Homo sapiens: one gene and its partners. The protein of the gene in region 4 purifies or fractionates together with the protein of the main gene of each other region. This does not show direct contact. Each region holds a gene or a part of one and is shown on either strand. Other genes may lie near its edges.

What was found. Proteins that work in one complex are often made in the same cells at the same time.
Region 1: the proteins of EXOC3 (region 4) and TRIP11 purify together in Homo sapiens (co-immunoprecipitation; 3 studies listed by BioGRID and IntAct, with this or other methods). This does not show direct contact.
Region 2: the proteins of EXOC3 (region 4) and PIBF1 purify together in Homo sapiens (affinity purification with mass spectrometry; 2 studies listed by BioGRID and IntAct, with this or other methods). This does not show direct contact.
Region 3: the proteins of EXOC3 (region 4) and MACROD1 purify together in Homo sapiens (affinity purification with mass spectrometry; 2 studies listed by BioGRID and IntAct, with this or other methods). This does not show direct contact.

The regions. Positions count from the first base shown.
Region 1 is NC_000014.9:92,012,560-92,016,059, reverse strand, and holds part of TRIP11 (thyroid receptor-interacting protein 11), read left to right. Parts: intron 1-198; coding exon 199-364; intron 365-1,482; coding exon 1,483-1,845; intron 1,846-3,500.
Region 2 is NC_000013.11:72,795,633-72,799,132, reverse strand, and holds part of PIBF1 (progesterone-induced-blocking factor 1), read right to left. Parts: intron 1,227-3,500; coding exon 1,107-1,226; intron 1-1,106.
Region 3 is NC_000011.10:64,009,114-64,012,613, forward strand, and holds part of MACROD1 (ADP-ribose glycohydrolase MACROD1), read right to left. Parts: intron 1-3,500. UniProt on the Homo sapiens protein: Removes ADP-ribose from aspartate and glutamate residues in proteins bearing a single ADP-ribose moiety. Inactive towards proteins bearing poly-ADP-ribose.
Region 4 is NC_000005.10:445,060-450,555, reverse strand, and holds part of EXOC3 (exocyst complex component 3), read right to left. Parts: intron 4,407-5,496; 5' UTR 4,351-4,406; coding exon 4,207-4,350; intron 3,736-4,206; exon of another isoform or gene 3,348-3,735; intron 3,218-3,347; exon of another isoform or gene 3,164-3,217; intron 3,024-3,163; coding exon 2,804-3,023; intron 1-2,803. UniProt on the Homo sapiens protein: Component of the exocyst complex involved in the docking of exocytic vesicles with fusion sites on the plasma membrane.

The DNA.
Region 1 (3,500 bases), on a different chromosome or scaffold from region 4:
GTTTTTGAGACCTAAGAAAGGAAAGGGTGAAGTTGTTCAGAATAGTCCTAATTTTGGGTCTGTGTTTAAATTCTTTTCAGCCTTAACATGTTCTGAGAATTCTTTTTAATAATGCACACTTTTGGACAACAGTTAAATATATAGCTTACATAAATTTATTGATTATAAATGTGAATAACTTTGTTTTTATTTTTTAAGGAACTAAAACAGAACCGAAGTCAGGAAATTGATGACCATCAACATGAAATGTCAGTACTGCAGAATGCACACCAACAGAAATTGACAGAAATAAGTCGACGACATCGAGAAGAATTAAGTGACTATGAAGAACGAATTGAAGAACTTGAAAATCTGTTACAACAAGGTTATTAGTTTTATTTCTTTATTATTATTATTTTTTTTGAGATGGAGTCTCCATCTGTTGCCCAGGCTGGAGTGCACTGGCGCGATCTCGGCTCACTGCAACCTCCGCCCCCCGGGTTCAAGCGATTCTCCTGCATCAGCCTCCCAAGTAGCTGGATTACAGGTGCCTGCCACCATGCCCAGCTAATTTTTGTATTTTTAGTAGCAATAGGGTTTCGCCATATTGGCCAGGCTGGTCCCAAACTCGTGATCTCGGGTGGTCCACCCACCTCGGCCTCCCAAAGTGCTAGGATTACAGGCATGAGCCACTGCACCTGGCCAGTTGATAGTTTTATTAATTTAACATATTAGATGACATAACTAAATGATAGACCTAGCATTCTAAGACCAGGACAGTGCTGTAAACTTGCCCTAAGTTATAAGGAAGTGTAAATGACTAGTTCTGCTTATCTGCCAGAAATTTGCAGTGGCACCTCTGCTTTTAAGATTCTGTGGCCGGGAGTGGTGGCTTATGGCTATAACCCCAGCATTTTGGGAGGCCAAGGTGTGTGGATCACTTGAGGCCAGGAGTTTGAGACCAGCCTGGCCAACATGGCGAAATCCCGTCTCTACTAAAAATACAAAAATTAGCTGGACGTGGTGGTGCTCGCCTGTGGTCCCAGCTACTCAGGAGGCTGAGGTGGGAGGATCACTTGAGCCCAGGAGGCAGAGGTTGCAGTGAGCCGAGATGGCACCACTGCCCTCCAGCCTGGGCAACAGAGTGAGACTCCATCTCAAAAAAAAAAAAAAAATTCTGTGAAAATGGAAATGTCCTTTTTACCTTTGTGGTAAATAGTTATAATTTATAGATTTCTTTGCATTGTTTGGTGATGATACTTTGGTAATAAATGATTAGAGATATTATCACTTTCTTTCAAACTAAGATACATAGGCCTTTATGTAGTTGATTCAAATATTTTCCCCCAACTTATTTATTTTAAAACACTTAGTTTATTATAGTAATTTAACTTTTAAGCTTTCCAAATTCTGAACTGTCTTATATCTCTTAGTTGTATATAGCAAACCGTTTATTTCTTGGTACTTGACATTTGATGTCATTGTTTTGTGTTTATGTTCTAGGTGGCTCTGGAGTTATAGAAACTGATCTCTCTAAAATCTATGAGATGCAAAAAACTATTCAAGTTCTACAAATAGAAAAAGTGGAGTCTACCAAAAAAATGGAACAACTTGAGGATAAAATAAAAGATATAAATAAAAAATTATCTTCTGCAGAAAATGACAGAGATATTTTGAGGAGAGAACAAGAACAGCTAAATGTGGAAAAGAGACAAATAATGGAAGAATGTGAAAACTTGAAATTGGAATGTAGTAAATTGCAGCCTTCTGCTGTGAAGCAAAGTGATACTATGACAGAAAAGGAAAGAATTCTTGCCCAGAGTGCATCAGTGGAAGAAGTGTTCAGACTACAACAAGCACTGTCTGGTATACAGTCTTTGGAACTTATTTCAGATTGCTGTTTCATTGCATAGTAGTTGTTTTTAGAGACAGATGCTTCACTAACTGAATACTTAGTGGAAATGGCATATTCCTGGAAATGACTGTGTGTCATTTGGGTAGAATTGTGTGGTTTGGATTCAGTGTAAGAGTTAATAGATTGCAAATAGGAATTTCCTATTAAAAAGGATTAGGTATTGCTATACTTTCTGTAACTCATCACAGCCCACATCCTCCAGTTAGGGAATACAGCCTTTCTTCTTCAAAGTCAGTTGTTACCTGTTTGAAACGATCTCCTATATCCAAGCAAAGCCCTGAGTGCTTAGAGCCATAGGTCTTCCACCATTTTCTATGCTCATGATGATATTTAGTTACTGTACCAGTATTCTGTGTTACAGAAAATTAGTACTAAATGAAATAGGCCAAACACCAGTAAATAAAATAAATTTTAAAGTAATTGTACTTACGTTTTAAAAAATAAGTTTACTTATTTAAAAAATAAATTTACTTACATAAGACTAATACATTTACTTACTTATCATATTGGGTGATCCAGATGAGTTTATGTGCTTAAAAGACAAACCCACTGCCTTAGTCCTTCCTCTTTTTTCTATTCCATTGACACAGAATTACTTCAGCCAGTCATAATTGCTTTTTGCCTATGTTAACTATGGCAGCTCTCTGAATGGAGCAGAATAGCGTAGTGGTTAAGGACATGACTGGGTTGGAATCGAGCTCTATCACTAATTAGCTGACCTTGGACAGGTTAACATCTCTATGCATTGGTTATTTCATCTATAGGGTTGGGATAATAATGGTATCTTCCTTGTAGTTTTAGTAATGAGGATTATATGAGTTACTTTCTGCCGCTCTTTAGGATAGTGTCTAGCCAATAGTAAATGTTGAAGAGTTAGCTTTTTTTTTGTTTGTTTTTTTGAGACAGAGTCTCGCTCTGTAGCTCAGACTGGAGTGCAGTGGCACGATCTCGGTTCACTGCAACCTCCACCTCCCGGGTTCAAGTGATGCTCCTCCCTCAGCCTCCCAAGTAGCTGGGACTACAAGCATGTGTCACCACGCCCAGCTAATTTTTGTATTTTTAGTAGAGACAGGGTTTCACCATGTTGGCCAGGATGATCTCGATCTCTTGACCTCATGATCTGCCCACCTTGGCCACCCAAAGTGCTGGGATTACAGGCGTGAGCCACCGCCCCCAGCTGAAGAGTTAGCTTTTAAAATTCTCTGTTCTCCATGATTCCTTCAATCTATTTTTTTCATTCTGCAGCCAGAATAATTTGTCAGAAATGCAAAGCAGGTTACTCCCCTGCATTTAGTACTTTATAGCTGCCTGTGAACTTCGGGATGATGTTTAAATTTCTTAGTTAGACATGATAATGTCTCTCATGATCTAGTTCCTGCCTATCTCTTCAGTTTCAACTATTCCCATGCTCCTGACATTCTAAACTTGAACCATATTGAATTTTCTATAGCTCCTTAAAGCAGCAATGTTACCTCTTCACTCTGTTACCCTTGCATTTTCTGCTTTCTCTGTGTGGAGTGTCTCTATGGCTCTTTTAGCCGACTCTCAGTATATTGATTCAGTGCAGGTATTAACCTCCACTGAGAAGTACCTAGCACTGCCACTT
Region 2 (3,500 bases), on a different chromosome or scaffold from region 4:
CATTAAATGACCTGGTCATGGTCACACAGTAAATGAGAGTGTCAAAATATCACCTAACGTTCTAATCCTAACCTGCTAGAAAGTAAACTCTAGAAGGGCAGGCATTGCCTCTCTTGGGTTCACTGCCAGCACCTAGCACAGCACCATGCACACCACTGGGGTTAATGCTAGTATCAGTACACATGCTCAGAATAAATATTATGAGAGTTAACTGCACTTCACAAAGAAGCCACGTAAGTAATAAATGGACAGTAGCTCCATCTCATATCACGAACAAGGCTAACTTGTAATGAAGAACTGCAGCAGCCCCCATTTGTAAACTAGAAGTGTTTTCCTTTTAGAATAACGAAATATTTGAAGAAAAACAGCCACCCATTTCCAACTGTTACATGGTAGAATGAATCAATCTACCATTATTTTTTTGTTAGTAGACTATAACTACAAGATAGTATTCTAGGATATCTGGTCAATAATACAACCAAGTTAATGATTAGTCCACCCTTCTATATAAATGTTGATTTATGATTACTATATTCATCGTCTAGGCTGAGATAATTTTGAAAATAAAGGGGTGCTATTAATATTTATTCACAGGAATAATGGCAACAGTCTTAGGCAAACCAGAACCTACGAGTCAACTTAGTTCAAAGTAAAAATATTCTCCTTTTCTTCTTTCTTATGGCACCTGCAAGAGATCCCCTGCATAGCTTGGCCTACATTTCTTGTTTCTTGCTTAAATTTCCTGACAAAGTGATGTTAAAAATAGAGACAAATTACTAAATAAATACATGCATATGCGTCATCTAAGGATACACAGCAATTTTCAGATATAGCCCATATTAGGATTTCAAAAGCAGTTGATTATAAAATTGACTTGCAACAATAAAAGCTCAACTATAGGATACGTCAATAACACAGACTTGTCTTGTCAATGTTTAAGATGACTACTTCCAATTTAACCTCCTTCCCATTATTGAACTGTAGCAGTCACCATCCCATAGTCCCATTTTTCAATCACTGACTTTTATATGCCTTATCACAAATCCTGAGGGACTCTACAGAAAAAGCCGAAGCTTCTTCCCACCAGCAATCAAAACCATACAAACCTCTGTCAGCTGCTTCAGTTGGTTTTTGTTTGTACTTAATTCTTCTGCTAGGATATTCTTTTTCACTTGTAGTTCACAGATTTCCTTTCTTAATGGATTCACTAGCTCATAGAAGCGAACCTTGAAAAAAATTAAATTAATAAGCAGTCTTAAATCCAAATTACAATTAAAATTTGTAATTTGTAGTGCTCTCACTTATCAGTAATAAAGATAAATATTTACAAAACTACAACAAGACAGTCATTAATGGACCCTAGCCACTAATACTTTCTATCAAGCCTTAATGTTCAATTAACTTCCCTCAAGGGCCAGATGATTTATAACCTCTTACCTTTGACAGTATTTCCTCCCTTCTACTGACACTCCATTACTACTCATCTACTACTGCTCACTCCACACTAGGTGCTTGTAAACTTCTGGAACATATCACAAATGTTCAGGAGTCTTGCTCTTGCTGTTTCTTCTGCTAGAGAAGTTCTTCCCCCATATAAATGCATGGCTCATGCCTTGTCTCCCTATAGGTCTCTGACCAAATATTACCTTGTTAGTAAAGCCCTCCCTGATTTCTTTACCTAATTTTAAGTAGCACTCCCTATTTTTCACCCCTGCTCTTTTCTCTGTAGCACCTTTGACAAACAGATATTCTACATATTTAATTTTTAAGTTATTGCCTGTGTTGCTCCACTTTCACAACCTGAGGGCAGGGATTTTTGTCTGGTTTATACACCGCTGTATTTCCAATGCCTAAATATATGATAAGCACTCAATAAATACTTGATGAAGAGGTAAAGTGTATTCTTTATTTTCATCCCAGGCTCTTGGCAAAGCTTTATTTACTGCTGTCCCTACAGTGGAAGTCTAATCAGAATGAATCAAGAGGTATCTTTCACATCATTACTTCCATTTAGTTCAGGTCTCTCTTTCCACTCATACTTGTCTCAGAGAAATTTTCCTACCCTAGCTCAGTAAAGTGTTCCATCTGACAAGGTCCCATAAAACTAAGAAATCATCACAGCAAATTAGGAGAGAGTAATTAGGGGCTATCATATAGGCATGCAATCTGAAACTCCTTAACATATGACGGTATTACAAGAATACCATTATTTGGTAAGAGGCAAATCTTAATACTAGCCCTCAACAAAAAGAATCTGCATATAATTAATTAGTTAAGGATAATATTGTCTGTGAAAACAAAAGATGTAAGAAGGAATATTAAGAAAACAAACAGCAAAAATATGTGTAACTGCCACCAGTGTGATACTTTATATCTACTGTAAATGAAGCCTCAAAAACAGAATTTGAGATATTTAATTTGTTTTGGACAGTATACTTTGGACAGAAAAGCTGTATTTGAGCCTTTTAAAAAAAAAAAAAAAACAGCTGAACAAAAAAGTAACTTCATTTTATCAGACATCACTAATCTGCAAATCTTTTCCCAATGAGAACCAAGAATAGCAACCACCACTCCAGCAAAAACAATAGACAACATTTTTATGTGTTTACTATCTTCTAAGCACTATGCTCACAAGCATTTTACATACATAGTTATAGTCTTTACAATTATCCCCAATAGAAACGCACCGTTACTATTAACCCTTTTTAGGGATTAAAAAATTCAAGCCTCTCAGGGTAAAATGACATCTACATATTAAAAAGCAGCAGTTCTCAACATATGGTTTTGGGACTCCTGGACTCTGCCCCACTCGCCACTCTGAGATCCTTTCAGGGAATTCACAAGATCAAAACGACTTTCCTAGTAATTATTAAGATTTTTTTTCCCCGTTTCATTCTCATTCTCTCATGACTGTTCAGTGGAGTTTGCCAGTGGCTACATGACATATGACATTATCACTCTTAAGGCCAATGGAATTGTGTGCTTATTCTTGTGTTTAAAAAAGTTGTTAGTTTAAAATTCTAGTATGGTAAATATTAATAGATACAGCCCATATAAACAAACACTCATTGGGGTCCTCAATAACTTTTAGAATGTAAATGAATGCTGACACCAAAATATTTGAGACCACTGCCATAGATTAATCCTAGGTGTTCTAGATTTGTGTAACCAGCACTGCAATCAAGATCTTGCGCCAATCTCTCACCACAAAGTTCTTTCTCATCCTATCCCTTTATAACCACGCTGACTCCTCTCTCCCACTATCCCCAACCAACCCCTGGCAACAACTACTCTGTTGTTTATAATTTTTCATTTTGAGAATGTAAGAAACCACCAGTTTACGATAATTCATTTCTATGGACTATGCAGTCATTAACTTCAGAAACCTATTTATTGCTTGACTTTGGAGATCAATGGTCATGATCCTTTAAAATTTGGATCTCAACACCATTCACCATCCATAGCCATAAAATAATGTATCAATTGGGTACTTCAAAAGT
Region 3 (3,500 bases), on a different chromosome or scaffold from region 4:
GCTCCTTATCTCCGAGTAAACATTTCAGTCCTAATAAACAGGAGAGACACGGGCGTCAGGGCTCTGTCGATTCCCATCCTGATTTAGGACCTGCCTCCCTTCTTACCATACAATAGGAGAGTGTTTTAAAAAATGTTTTTATTGAGCCAGTAAAAGCTTTCCAGGAGGGAGGTGGGAGAGAGGAGGGGGCCTGGCAGACACCAGGCCAAAGGGTCTGTCGGGAAGGCTGGCAGCTGCCCCAAGCCCATCAAGCCTTCCTGAAGCAGACACAGGCCTTCCCCCTGGGGGGCCCGTCCATCCTGCTCTACCTGCAGAACTCCTATTTAGCCTTCGGGACCCAAGTCAAATGCTCCCTCTGCTGGGAAGCCTCCTACCAAACTGGGTCTCCCTGAAGGCAGAGCCAAGCCCTGAGTCCCAGCATTTGGCATAGCTCCCTCAACTCAGAGAGAGCTCCAGGGAAGAATGGGTAGTAAGGGAGTAGGGGGACTTCCCCAGGACTCACTGCATTGCCAGCACCATCTAGTTCGGCCCCAGGGTGTGGTGGGTGGGGGTCCAGGCCCAGAGTGAGGCAGGCACAGGAGTCCTGTGCCCTCCAGGTTAAGTCCCTTTAGCCCCAGCAGCCCCTGGGGGCTCTCACTGCATTGGGGGTGCCCGGGAGACTCCCTTCTCTGCTCCCCTGAGACTGCAGCCCTCTTCTGCTCTAAATCACCGCACATTTGCCGTAAAAACAGTGGGCTCGGGCCCCAAAGCCCTGCAGGCCAGTCCCAGCCCCATCTTCTGAGCCCCAGTTGCGCCGGCCCCTCCTGGCAGGAACTCCACGCCACTACCCACACCAGGGTGTTGGCCGGGGTGTTGGCTGGGATGTTGGTTGGGTTGTTGCCTGGGGTATTGGTTGGGGTGTTGGTTGGGGTGTTGGCTGGGTTGTTGGTTGGGGTGTTGGCTGGGGTGTTGGCTGGGGTGTTGCCCAGGGTGTTGGTTGGGGTGTTGGTTGGGGGGTTGGCTGGGGTGTTGGTTGGGGGGTTGGTTGGGGTGTTGGTTGAAGTGTTGCCTGGGGTGTTGGTTGGTGTGTTGGCTGGGGTGTTGGTTGGCATATTGGTTGGGGTGTTGCCCAGAGTGTTAGCTGGGGTGTTGGTTGGGGTGCTGGCTGGCATGTTGGTTGGGGTGTTGGCTGGCATGTTGGGGTGTTGGAGTGTTGGCTGGTATGTTGTTTGGGGTGTTGGTTGGGGTGTTGGTTGGAGTGTTGGTTGGAGTGTTGGCTGGGATGTTGGCTGGGGTGTTGACCGGGGTGTTGGCTGGAGTGTTGGTTGAGATGTTGGCTGACATGTTGGGGTGTTGGTTGGGGTGCTGGCTGGCATGTTGGTTGGGGTGTTGGCTGGGGTGTTGGTTGGGGTGTTGGTTGGTGTGTTGGTTGGGGCGTTGGCTGGCATGTTGGTTGGCATGTGTTGGTTGGGATGTTGGCTGGCATGTTGATTGGGGTGTTGGCTGCCATGTTGCTTGAGGTGTTGGCTGGGGTGTTGGTTGGAGTGTTGTTTGGGGTGTTAGTTGGGGTGCTGGCTGGTGTGTTGGTTGGGGTGTTGGCTGGCATGTTGGCTGGCATGTTGGTTGGGGTGTTGGTTGGCATGTTGGTTGGGGTGTTGGCTGGCATATTGGTTGGCACGAGTTGGTTGGGGTGTTTGGGATGTTGGCTGGCATGTTGGTTGGGGTATTGGTTGGGGTGTTGGCTTGCATGTTGGCTGGAGTGTTGGTTGGGGTGTTTGCTGGTGTATTGTTTGGGGTGTTGGCTGGCATGTTGGTTGGGGTGTTGGCCAGGGTGTTGGCTGGCATGTTGGTTGGGGTGTTGGCTGGCATGTTGGTTGGCATGTGTTGGTTGGGGTGTTGGTTGGGATGTTGGCTGGTGTGTTGGTTGAGGTGTTGGTTGGGATGTTGGCTGGCGTGTTGGCTGGCATGTTGGTTGGGGTGTTGAAGTGTTGGCTGGGGTGTTGGTTGGCATGTTGGTTGGGGTGTTGGCTGGCATATTGGTTGGCACGAGTTGGTTGGGGTGTTAGGATGCTGGTTGGCATGTTGGTTGGGGTATTTGTTGGGGTGTTGGCTGGCGTGTTGGCTGGGGTGTTGGTTGGGGTGTTGGTTGGGGTGTTTGCTGGTGTATTGTTTGGGGTGTTGGCTGGCATGCTGGTTGGGGTGTTGGCTGGCATGTTGTTGGGGTGTTGGCTGGCATGTTGGTTGGGCTGTTGGCTAGGATGCTGATTGGGGTGTTGGCCAGGGTGTTGCCTGCTGCCCCTCTCCATTGAGGGACTGGCAGACTGGCAGTCCCCAGGGTGAGGGGATGGGATGTGGGTGCCAGACTGAGAGCTGTGTCCCTGGCTCCCAGGGCACACAGAGGGTGCCACTCACTGCACCACAGATGTTAATTATTTACTTCAAAGCAGGAAGCTCTTCTAGGAGCTCAGAATCTCCCATAACCCTGCCCTCGGGGGAGTCCATTCCGGTGGGGAGGCAGGCAATGAAGAACAAACACAAAACGCAAGCAGGGAATCAGGGCTGCGGGACGAAGACATGGAGCAGGGCAGTGCATCAGGGTTCTGGGCAGAGTGGCCAGGGCAGGCAGGATGGCCCTTGTGCGTGTTCGAACAATGGGTGGCTGGTCATGGGAGGGGCGCGGGTAGAGGCCTGAACTCCTGTAGGAGGGATGTCCAGGGACCCCACGGGAAGATGGGTGTGTCTGGGCAGAGTCAGATGGGGTCTAACTTGGGCAGGTAGGCGATTAGGACTGGATGAACTCAAAGGATGGTGGGAGGAGCAGGGGTATAGGGGAGGGCAGAGCACCTCCGGGGACCAGGCTGGGCTCCATTCCAGCCCCAGCATCGTCCCTACCACAGCCCCCTCCCCACCACCTCCACTGTGTTCCAATCACATTAGCAGAGTGACAGTCCCAGCAAGTGCTGGCGGCGGCTCCATAAATCTCAGCCCATGTTAAAAGGTTGGACTCCGGGCCCACTTCCTCCAGGGGCACCCGCCCCGTCCATCTCTCCATCAGTCAGGTTGTGTGAGAGGCCTGTGCCAGCCGCTCCGCACCCCTAAATGCTGGAAGGAGAACCAGAGAGACCTCTGCCATGCCTCTGAGTGGCCAGGGCAGGGCCCCTCCACTTCCTAGAGTGAGGTCACAGGCCATCTGTGAGCCACTCCTGGATTTGCCAAAACATCTTTGGTTTCCACCAGCTGCCCTTGGGTAAGTCCGTTGCTTAATGTGTAGGGTCATCTCCACCTTTACCTGTAGTTCATTCATTCAATAAACTTTTTTTTTTTTTGAGACAGGGTCTCGCTGTGTTACCCAAGCTGGAGTGCAGTGGTGTGATCTTGGCTCACTGCAGCCCCTGCCTATGGGGTTCAAGCAATTCTCCTGCCTCAGCCTTCTGAGTAGCTGGGATTACAGGTGTGTACCACCATGCCCAGCTAATTTTTGTATTTTTAGTAGAGACGGGGCTTCACCATGTTGGCTAGGC
Region 4 (5,496 bases):
AACCAACCAACCAGACTGAACAGACACAGAAAGAACACCCAACAACAGAACACACACTATTCTCACGTGCACATGGGACAGTCTTCAGGAAAGACCATGGATTAGGCCTCAAATTAAGACTCAGGTTTTTAAAAGATAAATATCATACAAAGTATCTTCTCCAAACTCAACAGATGACATTAGAAATCAGTATCAGAAGGAAAACTGTAAAATTCACCAATTTGTGGAAATTAAACAACATACTCTTAAACAATTAATGGGGCAAAAAAGGAAACATAAGGGACTTTTGTTTTGTTTTGTTTTGTTTTTCAGATGAAGTCTCGCTCTTGTCCCCCTGGCTGGAGTGCAGTGGTGCGATCTCGGCTCACTGTGACCTCTGCCTCCTGGGTTCAAGTGATTCTCCTGCCTCAGCCTCCTGAGTAGCTGGGATTACAGGCGCCTGCCACCACGCCCGGCTAATTTTTATATTTTTAGTAGAGACGGGGTTTCACCATGTTGGCCGGGCTGGTCTCAAACTCCTGACCTCAGGTGATCCGCCTGCCTCAGCCTTCCAAAGTGCTGGGATGACGGGCGTGAGCCACCGCACCCAGCCATAAGGGATATTTTTAAAAACCTAAGAGAAGAATGAAAATGCAGACGAATCAGAAACCTCACACACTCATGGTGGAAAATGCTGCAGCCACCGGAGGAAACAGTCTGGCAGCTGCTCAAAGATTTAAACATAAATTACCACATGGTCCAGCAATTACACTTGTGTGTATATACCAGAAAGAAATAAAAGTAAAACATCTGTACACCCATGTTCACTACAGCATTATTCACAATAGCTAAAACGTGGAAGCAATTCAAATGTCCACCAACAGACAAACGGATAAGCAAAATGTGGTCCATCCATACAATGGAATATTATTCAGCCTTAAAAGTGAAGGAAATTCTACAATACCACAGCATAGAAGACCCCTGAGGACATCATGCTGAGTGAAATAAGCATGTCACAGAAAGACAGATAATGTGTGATGCCACTTCTATGAGGTCTTCAGAGTCATCCAATTCACAGAGACAGAAGGCAGAATGGTGGTGACCAGGAGCTGGGGCAGAGGGTGCGAAGTCAGTGTTTAATGGGTACAGATTTTCATGTCTGCAAGATGAAAAGAGTTCTGAAGACGGATGTGGCAATGGTTGCACAACAATATGAATGTTCTTAATAGTCCCCAACTGTACACTTAAAAATGGTTAAGACGGCAAACTGTACATATGCATTTTAGAAGAAGAAAAAATGGGGGAGGGGAGCTGTGTACACAGCATTGCTGAGTTATAGGCAATGAGACAAGTCTGAAGGCAACCAAACCAATCTTCTCAATGAAAATTTATCCGTAACAAAAAACATGCATACCACGCAGGCTCATTTGTTCACCAAGGAAAGGAAATTATTTTCAACTGCTGTGGATAAACTAATTCCAGTAATGCACCTTTTTGGTCATCAGGCATTAGTTTAAAAGACCGGAAGGAAATGTAGCCAGCCAATACGAAATAAGAGGAAATTAACTAGAAAGCTGCCAGCTGAGCATCACCAAGGAGACTCCGTCGAGAGGACTTTATTCCTGTTCCAGGCGGCCCACAGTCACCAAGAAGAGCTGCTTTCTGAGTTGGCAGCACAGTGGCGTTCGTGTTGGGCATGCACAAAGAGACACGGACTGCAGCCACACATGTGACCCTACGGATCATGCCCTGGAAGAAGGGCACACACAAAGCAACGGGACAAGGTGCTCGGCAATGCTGCAGCCGCAAGCACGAGAGGAGGGCAGAGAGGACAGGGTGGACGGGACACGGATTACCAAGGTGCGCTGTGGGCAGCTGGGGAGAACCGCGCCAATTCACACGTGGCCTCAGGAGCCGAGCAGCGTCACAGATGATGCAGCACAGCCACTGTGAAGGGTGAGCTGGGGCACGTGACGGCTGGGGATGGGGAAGTGTCATACAGACATCAGGGCAGAGACGTCTGGTAGAGGAACAGGAAGAACTTGCCAAGAGGCCAGAGACAGGAACAAAGAAAGGGAAGGAATCAGACCCTGCCAAGGCTTCTGAGTTGGGGACTGGAAGGATGCTGCTGACCTTGACACAGAGCGGGGACCAAGGGGAGGGATGAGGCTGTGGAAGCAGCTCCTGTCACAGCAAGCAGGAGGAGACTGTGAACACAAATGCTGGGAGCCACCACCCAGGGCCAGCTGGCACCGTTCAGGGACAGGTTACAGGGCCCTTGGCATCCTTCTAACTGAGGCATTCAGGGAGAAGACTGAAAGGGTCACTCCCCCACGGCGCTCAGCCCCGCCTCTGCCCTGGCCTGTGCACACACGCTTCTCCTCCTGCCTGGGAGCTGCTGCTCGCCTCAACCCTTCTGCTCTGGGATCTGCTTGCTCTGTCCCATGCACAGGGTGGCTTCTCCTGCAGCTCCTTTTAAGCATGGGCCACGGCGTCTTCATTCTTCTGCACTCACAGAGTCTAACAGCCACATCGCAAGCAAGGGAACGACACTCAGCCAGGGAATCCCTCCACACTGCATTTGCTGGGCAGCCCGCTTCTGGGCCTCTGTCCTGACACTGAACTACAAGCCTTCTCCTAGCCTTTACATGCTCAGCTGATCACTTCCATCCACGTTCAAAAAAAGACGCTGAGCAGACAAGAATCACACTTACCGTCTACAGGTCTACAGTGCGGGCTGCAAAGCACACTGCACACAGAGCACTCAGTGAGTCATGCAAAGACAGCGTGAGTGGGGGCAAGTGCCTCGGCGTCTGGCTGGTACCTGAGAAGATGTTCTTGAGGTTCTCCACGGCTGCGGCGAGCTGGCTGTGCTGCACCACGGCGTCTTTGACGTCCTTGAGGCTCTCAATGGTGTTGATGCTCTGCCTCCAGTCCTTGCTGACGTCTGCCAGCGACTGCTGGATGTCTTTGACGTCATTCAGGGCGTTGTGGAGCTGGCTGAGGCCTGTGCGCACCCCGTCCAACTGTGACTGGATGGCGGCCTAAAGAGAGACGCCACACGGGTGAGCAGAGCCAATGATAGCCATGCGCTGCCTCCTGAAGAACAAATCTTCCCCAGGAGGGTCAAGTTCAGGAAAGAGCCACTGAGTAGCAGGAAACAGTCAATACCCAGAAAAGAAAATAAAATCAACAAGGATTTAATTGATTCACAGTGTACCTTTTTCTTCATTGCTGCCTGGGAACAGAACAATGATGCATTTTAAAGCCTTGATGAGAAAAGGTCAGGACACTCCTCATCTAGCCTCACACCTGGTGATCCTGGACACTACCACGGGTCTGCCCTGGGCCGTGGCCTGCTACGGTACCTTCAGAAGGATGTCACCCATGCTCTCCCAGGCATCCTAGGTTCCTAAAAGGTCTTGTCTAGGCAGAGAGAACGGTCAGGACTTCACTGGCTTGGGGTGGGGGAGTTCCTGCTGTTCAGCCAGCACCACACTTGGCCCCAGGACGGCTGACCCACAGGACAGAATCGGCACCTGAGCTTCAGATCCGCTCTCTGTCAAATGTGAGTTAAAACAATCTGAACAAAATGCCCTCTAGTGGTGCTCTGTAGAAGAGCTTTAAATAAGACTACTTCTCCTTCCTCCAGTATTGTTTAAAAACTTAATAGACACTTTCAGGGTGTTGTTTTTGTTTCTGTGTTTTTTTTTTCTTTTTGAGACAGAGTCTCACTCTGTTGCCCAGGCTGGAATGCAATGGCACCATCTCGGCTCACCGCAACCTCTGCCTCCTGGGTTCAAGCGATTCTCTTGCCTCAGCCTCCCAAGTAGCTGGGATTACAGGCGTCAACCATCATGCCTGGCTAATTTTTGTATTTTCATAGAGACAGGGTTTCACCATGTTGACCAGGCTGGTCTTGAACTCCTGACCTCAGGTGATCCGCCTGCCTCGGCCTCCCCGAGGTGCTGGGATTACAGGCATGAGTCACCGCACCCGGCCTCAGGGTGTTTAAAAGCTTGTTCCTTTGGTGTTTTCACCATTCCCACTGTCTTCTAAGCAAAGCTACTGAGTGGTAATACACTGCTGAAAGTAACTGCTCAAGAAAGTCCAGCTCTGCCTCCTTGCACATTACCATAAAGGCTAGTTTAGCAAAATCATCATGGTGATGTCAAGCAAGAACCTGAAGCCCAAGACAGATCCTGGGAGTGGGGCAGGTGGCCTCACCTTCAATCTGGCCTCCACGGAGGCCTTCTTCCGCGCTTCTCTCCTGCGATACTGCTCCACCTTGTCCAGCTGGTCCGGGCGCTGGAGCATCCCAGCAACCCTTTGCACTGCTGTCGCAACGGCCTCCCGGTCTGTCTCCTTCATGGTGAAAAAGCTGGTGGAATCCTCACACTGTTCATGCTAGGGGTGTTCTCTGTGCACTGCAGGAGTTGTTAGGACGGTAGAAATGTTAGGTACAAAACCTCCCCCAAACTATCAGGTGATCACAGTGGAGCTACAAGCAGAGCCTCTGAGATCATTAATCCAGGAAACCTCAAAGAAAGCTGAACTAGGATGAGGAACTCCTTGATAAGATAAACAAACCTTCGTAACACAAACATGCAGAAGTTATACCTTTAAGGGGAGAGCAGGGGCGTTTCACAGGCATGAGAGACATGGACATTGCGAAGATTCTAGATGTGGGTCCCAGACCACCCAGCATGTAGATGTCAGCCTCAAAGGCACATCTCTCCCCAAGACAGGGCTGGTTTCTCATTTCGGGAGCTTTCCCCCAGCACCTTGGCCAGGCCTGTGGGCAGCTGCACCAGGACCCTCAGTGAAGACAAATACAGCGTGGACAACTCCCCCGACCAGGTACCACAGCTGGAGGCCCAGCACAAGCCCCACAATTCCCACCCTATAAAAGTGACAATAGTCAGCCAGGCCCGGTGGCTCACGCCTGTAATCCCAGCACTTTGGCAGGCCGAGGCGGGTGGATCACGAGGTCAGGAGATCGAGACCATCCTGGCTAACATGGTGAAACCCTGTATCTACTAAAAATACACACAAAAAAATTAGCTGGGCATGTTGGTGGGTGCCTGTAGTCCCAGCTACTCGGGAGGCTGAGGCAGGAGACTGGCGTGAACCCCGGAGGCGGAGCTTGCAGTCAGCCGAGATCGCGCCACTGCACTCCAGCCTGGGCGACAGAGCGAGACTCCGTCTCAAAAAAAAAAAAAAGAAAAAAAAAGAAAAAGTCATTATTGTCTTGGGTATCCAAAACCCCATTTCCCCCTTTTTTAACTGTCCTAGAAAACATCATGCTTCCCTCCTTTATGCAGGCCCCGTGCAGACCACAGGTGCTCAGATGCCAGGCAAGCCTGCCTTCCATGCTCCCTCCACCATCGTCCTCCTCGGGGAGCTAACACAGCTGCTTGGTGAGCATCAGTCAATGAGGGAATCCGATACACCTGTTCCCCTTGACTTCAGCTGTCTGATTTTCATCTTCATGAATATTAAAAAGATTCACCTTCT